Linked DNA regions of Homo sapiens. The protein of the gene in region 2 purifies or fractionates together with the protein of the main gene of each other region. This does not show direct contact. Each region holds a gene or a part of one and is shown on either strand. Other genes may lie near its edges.

What was found.
Region 1: the proteins of SYNM (region 2) and SH3GL2 purify together in Homo sapiens (affinity purification with western blotting, with the first as the bait; one study listed by BioGRID). This does not show direct contact.
Region 3: the proteins of SYNM (region 2) and PACSIN1 purify together in Homo sapiens (affinity purification with western blotting, with the first as the bait; one study listed by BioGRID). This does not show direct contact.

What each region holds. Positions count from the first base shown.
Region 1 is NC_000009.12:17,760,424-17,764,144, reverse strand, and holds part of SH3GL2 (endophilin-A1), read right to left. Parts: intron 2,709-3,721; coding exon 2,636-2,708; intron 1-2,635. UniProt on the Homo sapiens protein: Implicated in synaptic vesicle endocytosis. May recruit other proteins to membranes with high curvature. Required for BDNF-dependent dendrite outgrowth.
Region 2 is NC_000015.10:99,128,951-99,132,671, forward strand, and holds part of SYNM (synemin), read left to right. Parts: intron 1-416; coding exon 417-3,721. UniProt on the Homo sapiens protein: Type-VI intermediate filament (IF) which plays an important cytoskeletal role within the muscle cell cytoskeleton.
Region 3 is NC_000006.12:34,464,876-34,468,875, reverse strand, and holds the start of PACSIN1 (protein kinase C and casein kinase substrate in neurons protein 1), read right to left. Parts: upstream 2,801-4,000; 5' UTR 2,606-2,800; intron 1-2,605. UniProt on the Homo sapiens protein: Plays a role in the reorganization of the microtubule cytoskeleton via its interaction with MAPT; this decreases microtubule stability and inhibits MAPT-induced microtubule polymerization.

The DNA.
Region 1 (3,721 bases), on a different chromosome or scaffold from region 2:
GCCTGTAATGGCCTTCATTGTTCTTAGTGGCAGATGTCCATTCAACTCTCAAATAGTCACAAAACCATTATATTGGCAGCCAATTAGCACATGCAATATTGTATTAAAAATGTCATTTCTAAACATTCAGATCTTCTCAATTACCTCCTCCTTTGATGTTTTTTATTAAAATAAAAATAAGCCTTAATCCCACAATTTCCTTTCTGAATTTCTCTGGTACTCTCTGAAAGGGAAGGACCCTTCACACCTAAATGAAATGGAGCCTACCCTTCTCAGAGGCAGGATCGTGCAACGTGAAGTGCAGAGACTTAGGAGGTAGTCAGACCTGAGTTCCAATCTTGTCTTCATCCCTTCCTAGGTGTATGAATGGGAAAGTTCCTTAAATTCTCTGACCCTTGTTTTTTCCTGAATAAAATGAGGCTAGCGTACTGGATTAGTTTTCTAGAGCTGTCATTTCAAATGACCACAAACTGGGCAGCCTCAAAGAAAAGAATTGATTCCCTCACAGTTCAGCATACCGGAAGTCTGAAATCAAGGTGTCGGCAAAGTTGGTTCCCTCTGGAGGCTCTGAGAGAATCCTTCCTCATGTCTTCCAGCTTGTGGTGGTGGCTCCTGGCATTCCTTTGCTCGTGACGTGTAACTTCAACCTCTTCTCATTCTTCACGTGGCCTTCTTTCCTGTGTTTCTCTGTGTCCTCTCCTCTTCTCATAAGGACACCCATCACTGGTTCTAGGGGCCACCCTAAATCTAGGAAGAGTTCATCTCAAGATCCTACATCACTACTTACATCTGCAAGGATTATTTCCACATAAGGTCACATTCCTTATAAGTTTAGTTCTGGATGGACCTGAATTTGGGGAGACACACAATGCAACCCACCACACCTACCTACAACAGAGCACAGTTCCATTATACTCAGGAAAACTGATGAGCTCCCACTGATAATTTGTGTTACAATGAATTTTTAGTCTATTTTCATACTAGAAATTCTTCAACTGTTTTTACTTTATATGGAGAAAAATGGTTACTTTTAAAGATGAGACAATGCCTCATATACCTAGCACTGCACTGAAAATGCATCAGTGCTCAATAAATACTATATTCCTCCTCCCACTGCCTTTCTCTTAGCCCTACAACCATGAGTTACAAGTACAACTCGTGAAAATCCCAGGAAATCATGGAGTACTTCAAGGTTCTAGGCAAAGATAAAGACCAAAACTTCTTGCCCCTATATAATGATTTCTTGCGGGGAAGCAGGGCGAGCAGTTCTCTTTCAGAACTTGACCTATGACAGTGGTTTAAACAGTAAGGAATAAATGTGCATCCAAGAGATCTTTGCATCTCTGTGAAAAACAGTGGTTACCAAGAAGGTTCTGGGTAAAAATAAGAAACCTGATTTTTGCAGTGCTTTGACAAATTTGCTAAGCATTTGAAAATGTATCTAGACCACTGTCAGTTAAATTCCTGGTTCCTATAGCTTATCACATTTTCTTCCATATTTTCCTCCCTCACATAAGCTCATTTCTAATGTGTTTTATGAACAAAAACAACAGCAACAAATATCCAGAAAGTTATTCCTACATAGTCTGCTCATCCTCAGAATAGCAGCTGGGCTGGTCATAGGTGAATAAGGATGGAAGGAAGCTGCAGCCAGCAGCAGGGGGCATAGAAAAGGAGCCAGCACTTAGTACAGCACACACCTGCTTCCTCTCAGCCCACACCCGCCCCCTTTTTTTTTTTTTTTTGATCACTTGTCCACTATTGCTCAGTATCCAAACTCATTGGGGCTGAAGCAGTTGTCTGCACCATCCTCTCTAGGACCATAAAATACACGGAACCCCAACCTGAAACTTGCAAAGAAACTAGCCTCAAGATTAAGGGGTATTCCAAATATTCACACATCTCACTTAAATACAACCAGCCTCACTTCCCGTTTCCGTGCCCTGTGGTTAGAAACTGACACACAGGAATGGTAATGAGGAGGTCTATCAGGTAGGCTGCTTTGCTTTGCTTTGCTTTGCTATACCTAGTGCCTACCGAAACTGCCCCAACTCTGCCTGGTCCTCTTATCAACATATAGCTCCGTTATCTCTATTACCACTTCTTTTTCTTAGAGTATAACAAGTTAGCAGGAACCAATGCTGATCTGTGATGTGCTTGGAGAAGAATCAGAATCAAGATCAACGCTCTGAAGACTTTGGTGATGCCCTATGAAGAAACCCTCTGTGTTTCATGAAAACGATTCACCTCCCTACTTTTTCACATCTTCTGGGAATCATTATATCTTACCTTAAACTATCCTAATTTTCCTTCTTACCATCTCTTGAAAGTTCAAACTGATAACAGTTTATAGCTACTCTGATATTATGTGTCACCTGAACTGTTTGCATACATTATTTGTTAAATATACCACAGTCAGATAAAATACCACAGATCTTCCAGTTACTTCAATGTGAGCTTTAAAAAGCCCTTCTCCCCAGTTAAAATGTGCTATCCATGAAGTCGCTAACCTCTCAGAAAAGTGGACCGAGGAAGCAACACCAAAAGAAGAAACACACCAAACTTAAAATGTCTATCAAAGAGAAACTAAAAGTTACCTCGAGGGATCCTTTAAACATATAAGATGATGCCTTACCTGGATTGGGTTGAAGGTATTCAATTGTTTTAGTCATTATTTCCATCACAGCCCTGCTGGTGACATCCACTTTCTGAAATGAGAAAATAAGTGCTCTAAATGACAAAAATGATGAGCTTTAGAATACCGGTTTTTGGTTGAGTCTGTATACAATGGCGGGGTATGCAACAGAGCCCCGGACAAGTCCCGCAGTAGGTGAGGGAGGCTGAGACGCGGCTGGAAGTCATGCTGACACTGTACTCAGCAGTGGTCTGCCAAGATGTGGAAAGCCCGTTTATCCAAAGAAGAAGCTTGTAGTTTCCTAAAATTTGTTTCAAAATATAATTCATTACCTTCTGGTGAAAATAAGGTGAATAAAATGAAACATATTTTGTCCCAGAGGCATTTATTGGATGCCTACAGTGGGTCAGGCATGGAGGCAGATTTTGCTGCCCTCAAGAAAGAATCATGCAGCATCAACTCTGCTTATTCAAGAAGTGGGGAGCTTTTTATTTAACTTCTAAGAACATCCTAAAAATATAAAATCTTGAGCAAAGACTTCTAGTCTGTCCTTGAACTTTTGGTTAATGCTAAACAAAAATCTTGATGCTAGAGTCTATCCTCCAAATTTGTTCTATCCTCTAAATTTCTAAATTTGGAATGGTCAGTGTTTGCCTTCAGCATCTCACCGTGTTCTCTTTGTCAGGCCCCTCTCCCCACTTGAAAGAGGTCATGGAAGGTGCTCACTGCAGTGCTCTCTGTCTTTCTCCAAGAAATCCTTTTCTTATCAGCATCTGTGGGCCTCCTATTCGCCCTACATGGTAAATGACTAATGAGAATAAATGCATCCTCCTATTCAAGGTATGTACATGTAATATATGACATAGGTATAAATGAAAGTGATTAAATTTTAATGTAGAAATTTAGGTATCAATTAAGTCCACTGGAGAAATTTTCTGTTTGTTAAAAGGCTCCCCCTTCAACTATGAGAAACTTTTCCATAACCTGCTGTACCTAGTGGTATATAATATATACCAGTATATAATATCAGTATATACCAGTATAATATCAGTATATACCAATATATACCGGTATATAATATATACC
Region 2 (3,721 bases):
ATTACAGAGCTCTTCTCTGCTACAGTAAATTAAACTTACCTCAAAAAGCAGAAATTAATGATTTCAAAATATAAGATTGTGAAATTTCAGCCACAAAAACGAGCACCTCTGACCTCTCTGGGATATGCATTGTGCTTTATGATTAATGTTAAGATGAGTGAGTATTTTAATATCAGTAACTGGAGAAACGTGTTAGGCTGAAGTATTTGTAGTGCTACATTTTATTGTAACAGGATTTTGTAAACTGCCAAAAAATAATTTGGGCACCAAATATAACTTATCTTTATAATGAGCTTTCTGTGGTAACAGTGTATATTTATTATGATGGAATGGGATTTGGCCTGCAACAATGCTTGTAGATGGAAAAGGGTAATGATGACTGTCATTTTAATGAATGCTTTGTTCAATTTCTACAGAATTCAGAAACAAATCCTATCACTATACCGACTCACTACTACAGAGGGAAAATGAAAGGAATCTATTTTCAAGGCAGAAAGCACCTTTGGCAAGTTTCAATCACAGCTCGGCACTGTATTCTAACCTGTCAGGGCACCGTGGATCTCAGACGGGCACATCTATTGGAGGTGATGCCAGAAGAGGCTTCTTGGGCTCGGGATATTCTTCCTCGGCCACTACCCAGCAGGAAAACTCATACGGAAAAGCCGTCAGCAGTCAAACCAACGTCAGAACTTTCTCTCCAACCTATGGCCTTTTAAGAAATACTGAGGCTCAAGTGAAAACATTCCCTGACAGACCAAAAGCCGGAGATACAAGGGAGGTCCCCGTTTACATAGGTGAAGATTCCACAATTGCCCGCGAGTCGTACCGGGATCGCCGAGACAAGGTGGCAGCAGGTGCTTCGGAAAGCACACGGTCAAATGAGAGGACCGTCATTCTGGGAAAGAAAACAGAAGTGAAAGCCACGAGGGAGCAAGAAAGAAACAGACCAGAAACCATCCGAACAAAGCCAGAAGAGAAAATGTTCGATTCTAAAGAGAAGGCTTCCGAGGAGAGAAACCTAAGATGGGAAGAATTGACAAAGTTAGATAAGGAAGCGAGACAGAGAGAAAGCCAGCAGATGAAGGAGAAGGCTAAGGAGAAGGACTCACCGAAGGAGAAGAGCGTGCGAGAGAGAGAGGTGCCGATTAGTCTAGAAGTATCCCAGGACAGAAGAGCAGAGGTGTCCCCGAAAGGTTTGCAGACGCCTGTGAAGGATGCTGGTGGTGGGACCGGTAGAGAGGCAGAAGCAAGAGAGCTACGGTTCAGGTTGGGCACCAGTGATGCCACTGGTTCTCTGCAAGGCGATTCCATGACAGAAACCGTAGCAGAAAACATCGTTACCAGTATCCTGAAGCAGTTCACTCAGTCTCCAGAGACAGAAGCATCTGCTGATTCTTTTCCAGACACAAAAGTCACTTACGTGGACAGGAAAGAGCTTCCTGGGGAAAGGAAAACAAAGACTGAAATAGTTGTGGAGTCTAAACTGACTGAGGATGTTGATGTTTCCGATGAAGCTGGCCTGGACTACCTTTTAAGCAAGGATATTAAGGAAGTGGGGCTGAAAGGCAAGTCAGCCGAGCAGATGATAGGAGACATCATCAACCTCGGCCTGAAAGGGAGGGAGGGGAGAGCAAAGGTCGTCAACGTGGAGATCGTGGAGGAGCCCGTGAGTTATGTCAGCGGGGAGAAGCCGGAGGAGTTTTCCGTCCCATTCAAAGTGGAGGAGGTCGAAGATGTGTCGCCAGGCCCCTGGGGGTTGGTTAAGGAGGAGGAAGGTTATGGAGAAAGCGATGTCACATTCTCAGTTAATCAGCATCGAAGGACCAAGCAGCCTCAGGAGAACACGACTCACGTGGAAGAAGTGACAGAGGCAGGTGATTCAGAGGGCGAGCAGAGTTATTTTGTGTCCACTCCAGATGAACACCCCGGGGGGCACGACAGAGATGACGGCTCGGTGTACGGGCAGATCCACATCGAGGAGGAATCCACCATCAGGTACTCTTGGCAGGATGAAATCGTGCAGGGGACTCGAAGGAGGACACAGAAGGACGGTGCAGTGGGCGAGAAGGTTGTGAAGCCCTTGGATGTCCCAGCGCCCTCTCTGGAGGGGGACCTGGGTTCCACTCACTGGAAAGAACAAGCTAGAAGCGGTGAATTTCATGCCGAACCCACAGTCATTGAAAAAGAAATTAAAATACCCCACGAATTCCACACCTCCATGAAGGGCATCTCCTCCAAGGAGCCCCGGCAGCAGCTGGTGGAGGTCATCGGGCAGCTGGAGGAAACCCTTCCCGAGCGCATGAGGGAGGAGCTGTCCGCCCTCACCAGAGAGGGGCAGGGTGGGCCGGGGAGCGTTTCCGTGGATGTCAAGAAGGTCCAGGGTGCTGGTGGCAGTTCCGTGACCCTGGTTGCTGAAGTCAACGTCTCACAAACTGTGGATGCCGATCGGTTAGACCTGGAGGAGCTGAGCAAAGATGAGGCCAGTGAGATGGAGAAGGCTGTGGAGTCGGTGGTTCGGGAGAGCCTGAGCAGGCAACGCAGCCCAGCGCCTGGCAGCCCAGATGAGGAAGGTGGAGCGGAGGCCCCGGCTGCTGGCATTCGCTTTAGGCGTTGGGCCACCCGGGAGCTGTACATCCCTTCAGGCGAGAGCGAGGTTGCTGGTGGGGCCTCTCACAGCTCGGGACAGCGCACTCCCCAGGGCCCAGTGTCGGCCACTGTGGAGGTCAGCAGCCCCACAGGCTTTGCCCAGTCACAGGTGCTGGAGGATGTGAGCCAGGCTGCAAGGCACATAAAACTCGGCCCCTCTGAAGTCTGGAGGACTGAGCGAATGTCATATGAAGGACCCACTGCAGAAGTGGTGGAGGTAAGTGCGGGAGGTGACCTAAGTCAGGCAGCGAGCCCGACCGGAGCCAGCCGGTCTGTGAGGCATGTCACGCTGGGTCCCGGTCAAAGTCCACTGTCCAGAGAAGTCATCTTCCTAGGCCCTGCCCCTGCCTGTCCAGAGGCATGGGGCTCGCCAGAACCTGGCCCAGCAGAGTCTTCTGCAGATATGGACGGATCAGGGAGGCACAGCACATTTGGCTGCAGACAATTTCATGCTGAAAAGGAGATTATTTTTCAGGGCCCCATTTCTGCTGCAGGGAAGGTTGGTGATTATTTTGCAACAGAAGAGTCAGTGGGTACCCAGACTTCTGTCAGGCAACTCCAGTTAGGCCCTAAAGAAGGGTTCAGTGGGCAAATCCAGTTCACAGCTCCACTTTCAGACAAGGTGGAGTTGGGTGTCATAGGAGATTCTGTACACATGGAAGGGTTGCCAGGGAGCAGCACATCCATCAGGCACATCAGCATTGGGCCTCAGAGGCATCAGACCACCCAGCAGATAGTTTACCATGGGCTGGTTCCCCAACTGGGGGAATCTGGTGACTCAGAGAGCACTGTGCACGGAGAGGGCTCAGCAGATGTGCACCAGGCCACTCACAGTCATACCTCGGGTAGACAAACCGTTATGACTGAAAAGAGCACCTTCCAAAGTGTCGTTTCTGAATCTCCCCAGGAGGATAGTGCAGAGGACACATCAGGGGCAGAAATGACATCGGGTGTTAGCAGATCCTTTAGGCACATTCGACTAGGTCCTACAGAAACGGAAACCTCTGAACACATTGCCATCCGTGGACCCGTGTCCAGAACATTTGTGCTTGCTGGTTCAGCGGACTCCCCTGAG
Region 3 (4,000 bases), on a different chromosome or scaffold from region 2:
TACTCTGTGCCAGGCCATGGGGCCACCGGAAACAGCACACAGACTCTGCCCCCACAGACCCCACAGCCCAGCAGGGAGAGGACACTGCATGATGGGAGGGTTCCCAGGGGAGGCAGCCAGGCTGTGGGGAGGGGATCATGGGTGGGGTTCCCAGCCCAAGCTGGGGAAGCTTCTGGAGGAAAAAGGAGTCTCAGTGGACTCCCGAGGGTGAGAGATTTGGGTGGGAAGGAAGAGGGAGAGGAGGAGACAGGAACAGCCTGTGCAAAGGCCTGCAGGTGACAGAAGCCCCACTTGCTTGAGGAACTGAAAGTAGCTCAGGGCAGCCAGGGGGCAGAGGGAGGGCAAGAAGGGAGAGTCAGCCTGGGTGTGGGAATGGTGGCAGAGCCACGTTAGGGAGACTGCATGGCTGTCAAATAGCAATGCGAGCCATTGTGGAATGAATGAATGATTGAATGACTGAATGTCAACTCTGGAAAATAGCTGGCAACCTGAGGGAGGGGGTTGAGTCCCTTCTTGGGCTTTCCCTCTATTCCCCAGGACCAAAGAGCCACCCAAACCAGACAGTTCTCTTTAGGCCCCTCCTAAGCCTGGAAATCTTGATGTCCTTCATAGACACAGGCCTGTGGCTAAGCCAGAACCCTTGTTGGCAGCCTCTTCCTCTGAAGTGGGTTTGCTCCTCCACACACTAGGGTCATGAGACCCCTGAGAGCTTGCTATGAAGACCTTAGAGGCTGAGGAAGGCCTGGCTTGGGCCTTCCCAGCTTCCCTGATGTTGACCTGGATTTTCCCAAGGGCTGGGACAGAGGCAGAGACTCTGGTCTAAAGTTGGCACCCCGGGAAGAAAGTGCCAACCCAGCGGCCTGAGGAGAGCCAGACCTTCACATCAGGCCTTCCCTCAAGCCAGGACCAGGCCTGGACACTCAAACCAGGGGCCCATAAGACCCTCTGGAGCCAGCAGGTTGCAACACTATCTCCAAAAGGCATAGCTGCCCATCAACTCCAGGCTTAGGAAGGGCCTAGCCGGGCATGATGGCTCAGGCCTGTAATCCTAGCACTTTGAGAGGCCAAGGTGGGCAGATCACCTGAGGTCAGGAGTTCGAGACCAGCCTGACCAACATGGAGAAACCCCGTCTCTACTAAAAATATAAAATTAGCCGGGTGTGGTGGTGCATGCCTGTAATTCCAGCTACTCAGGAGGCTGAGGCAGGAGAATCGCTTGAACCCGGGAGGCAGAGGTTGCGGTGAGCTGAGATCGTGCCATTGCACTCCAGCCTGGGCAACAAGAGCGAAACTCTCTCTCAAAAAAAAAAAAAAAAAAAAAAGGAAGGGCCTACTAAAGAGAACCACCTGGTTTGAGTGGAGTGGCTCTTTGGTCCTGGGGAATAGAGAGAAAGCCCAAGAAGGGGCTCGACCCCCTCCCTCAGGTTGCCAGCTATTTCCCAGAGTTTACATTCACTCATTCAATAAGTCATGCATTCCACAAGATATTTTCTTGGTGCCAAACCCTGCTTTGGTGCAGGGGCAATGACAGAGATGAATCAGATTCCCAGCCTGAAGGTACTTCTGGTCTAGAAGGAGATGAACAAGACAAATAACCCAGCCACAAGGCAGTCCAAGAACATAGGGCAGGGGGCAAGGATCTCACCTGGGGTATCAGGGAAGCTGCTGGAGGGTGATGATTTGGACTTGTGATAGAAAGGCCAGGATGGAGGATGGAAGCAAAATCACTGACAGACAGTCCTGTTTGCACCCCAGCTGTGCCAGGGGCTGGGGCAATGTGGGTTATTTATGGTTGTGCCTAGAAATAAGCGGCCATATGTGTCACTGCCTATGTGGTGCAGACCTGGGCTGTTGTGGGTAGGGGCAGCTGGGGCTTGAAGCTGGGTCTGGCCAAGCTCCCGGGTTTGCCACCATGTCTCCTACACCCTGATGACCCTTTAACCTTTTCATAGCCTCTTGTAAGGTGAAAATAAGGGGCAGAGGCAGCTCCAACAGGCAGCAAGTGGCCTGGGGCTTGCAGGGGAGGGCAGTGCCCAGCAGCCCATGGCTTCTGTATCTGCGGGGCCTTTTAGCATTATCGCCTCCTTCTTGCCTCCTCCCCCCTCCCCGCTCCCATCCCAGCTGTGGGGGAAGGGGTAGGGGACAGAAGGAAATACCTTTAACCATAAGCCAGACAGGCATCAGCTGCTGTGTTTCTCCCCAGCCCACTCTGATCCATAAATAGCCTATGCACCAAGCTGGCACCAGCCCACCCACCCCTTCTGGTAGCAGTCCAGAGACCCGGACCGCCCGGGCCCAGGCCCCAGCTTCCCAAGGAACCTATTTCCGGCGCTTTTCCTGGGGTAAGGGCCTCCGATGCCAGCTCGCTCCCCCAAGGGACCCAGCGCAGTGGCATCCTGGCACTGCCTGGGTGATGCCCGCGAACTCCGTCCCCTGAAGGCATCCCCGAACGCGCACCCGCTTCTCTCCAGGCAACTGCCCAACCCTGCCCGGGCTCTGGCCCAGGGAGATGTCAGTCCCGGCGCCCACTTCCAACACGCACTCCCTAACTGGACACCCGCACACACAACCCCCCCGCCCTCTATTCAAGGGCCAGACCTCCTACCTGGGGGCAGGAGCTCCGGGGACCATCGGCGGCGACTCGGGGCGAAGCGGGACGTCTGGGGCCCGGCCTCAAGCCCGGCCGACTTCCCGGGGGAGGAGGGGGCTGGCGCTGCCGCCGCCACCGCGTCGCTCTGGGATCTCGCCGGGGCTGCGGGAAGGAGGAAGGTCAGAGCTGAGGCGGAGAGGGGGGAAGGATGAGGAGGAGGCGTGCACCGAGCAGAGCAGATTAGAGAGGCATTTTTAGCGAGCCAATGGTAGCGCGGGCAGGGCGGCGCGGTGGCTGCGCAGGTGGACGCGCCGCGGCTGCCGGGGAGGCAGCAACCAGTTTGGCAGGCGCCGGGGGTGGCGGGTGGCGGGTGGCGGGTGGGGTCCGGCTCCCCGCTGCTTCAGCCGACCCCTGCCCCAGCAGTCTTGCCTGGCTCCCTCTTCTGGGGGCTGCCCGCGGCCCCGCGCGTGCCGGGAGCCCTCCGGTGCGCCCTCCTCCCCAGCCCTCCCAGCTGGCGCGCTCGGAGCCCGGGATGTTGCTCCCTGCCTCTCTCCCCATCTCCCCATCGCCTTGGCCTTTCCTCCTCTCCCGAGCCTCGGCGTCCCTTGGTGCGTGCGGGTGCCTGTGTGGTGGGTGTGTTGAAGACGTGCGTGTGAGCTGACTTGGGAGCGACACCCCCTGCACCACCGCCCCACTGATGCCCACCCCTGCCCGCAGCTTCTGCCCTGTGACCCCATGGGGCGGGATCGCTAACCCTCATGTCCTAGTTCCAGCAGGACCGGCTGTCGCCAAAGCAAACTCCAGGCCATGTCGTTGGAGCTCTCTAGGGGGCTTGGGGCCTAATAGGGGACCCTCAACGGCCTTCACTCTTCCGAACTTGAGCCCTGAATGCTGCCTGGAGCCTGGACGCTGCAGGGAGGAGCGGGGCACATACCTATTGAAGGCCTGTTCTGTATCAGGCACTGATGAGGGGCTGGGCTGCAGCAGAGGACAGAACAGACCAAAACTCTGCCATCTCATAGTTCACATGTGTGAGGGAAGATAGATACTCAATATCAGCAGCTAAGAGTGTTTTGTTTGGTTTTTGTTGTTGTTGTTTTGTTTTGTTTTGAGACGGAGTTTCGCTCTTGTTGCCCAGGCTGGAGTGCAATGGCACGATCTCGGCTCACCACAACCTCCGCCTCCCGGGTTCAAGCGATTCTCCTGCCTCAGCCTCCCGAGTAGCTGGGACTACAGGCGCGAGTCACCACACCCAACTAATTTTGTATTTTTAGTAGAGATGGGGTTTCTCCATGTTGGTCAGGCTGGTCTCGAACTCCCGCCCTCAGGTGATCTGCCCGCCTTGGCCTCCCAAAGTGCTGAGATTACAGGCGTGAACCACTGCGCCGGGCCAAGAGTGTATTTTAAAGT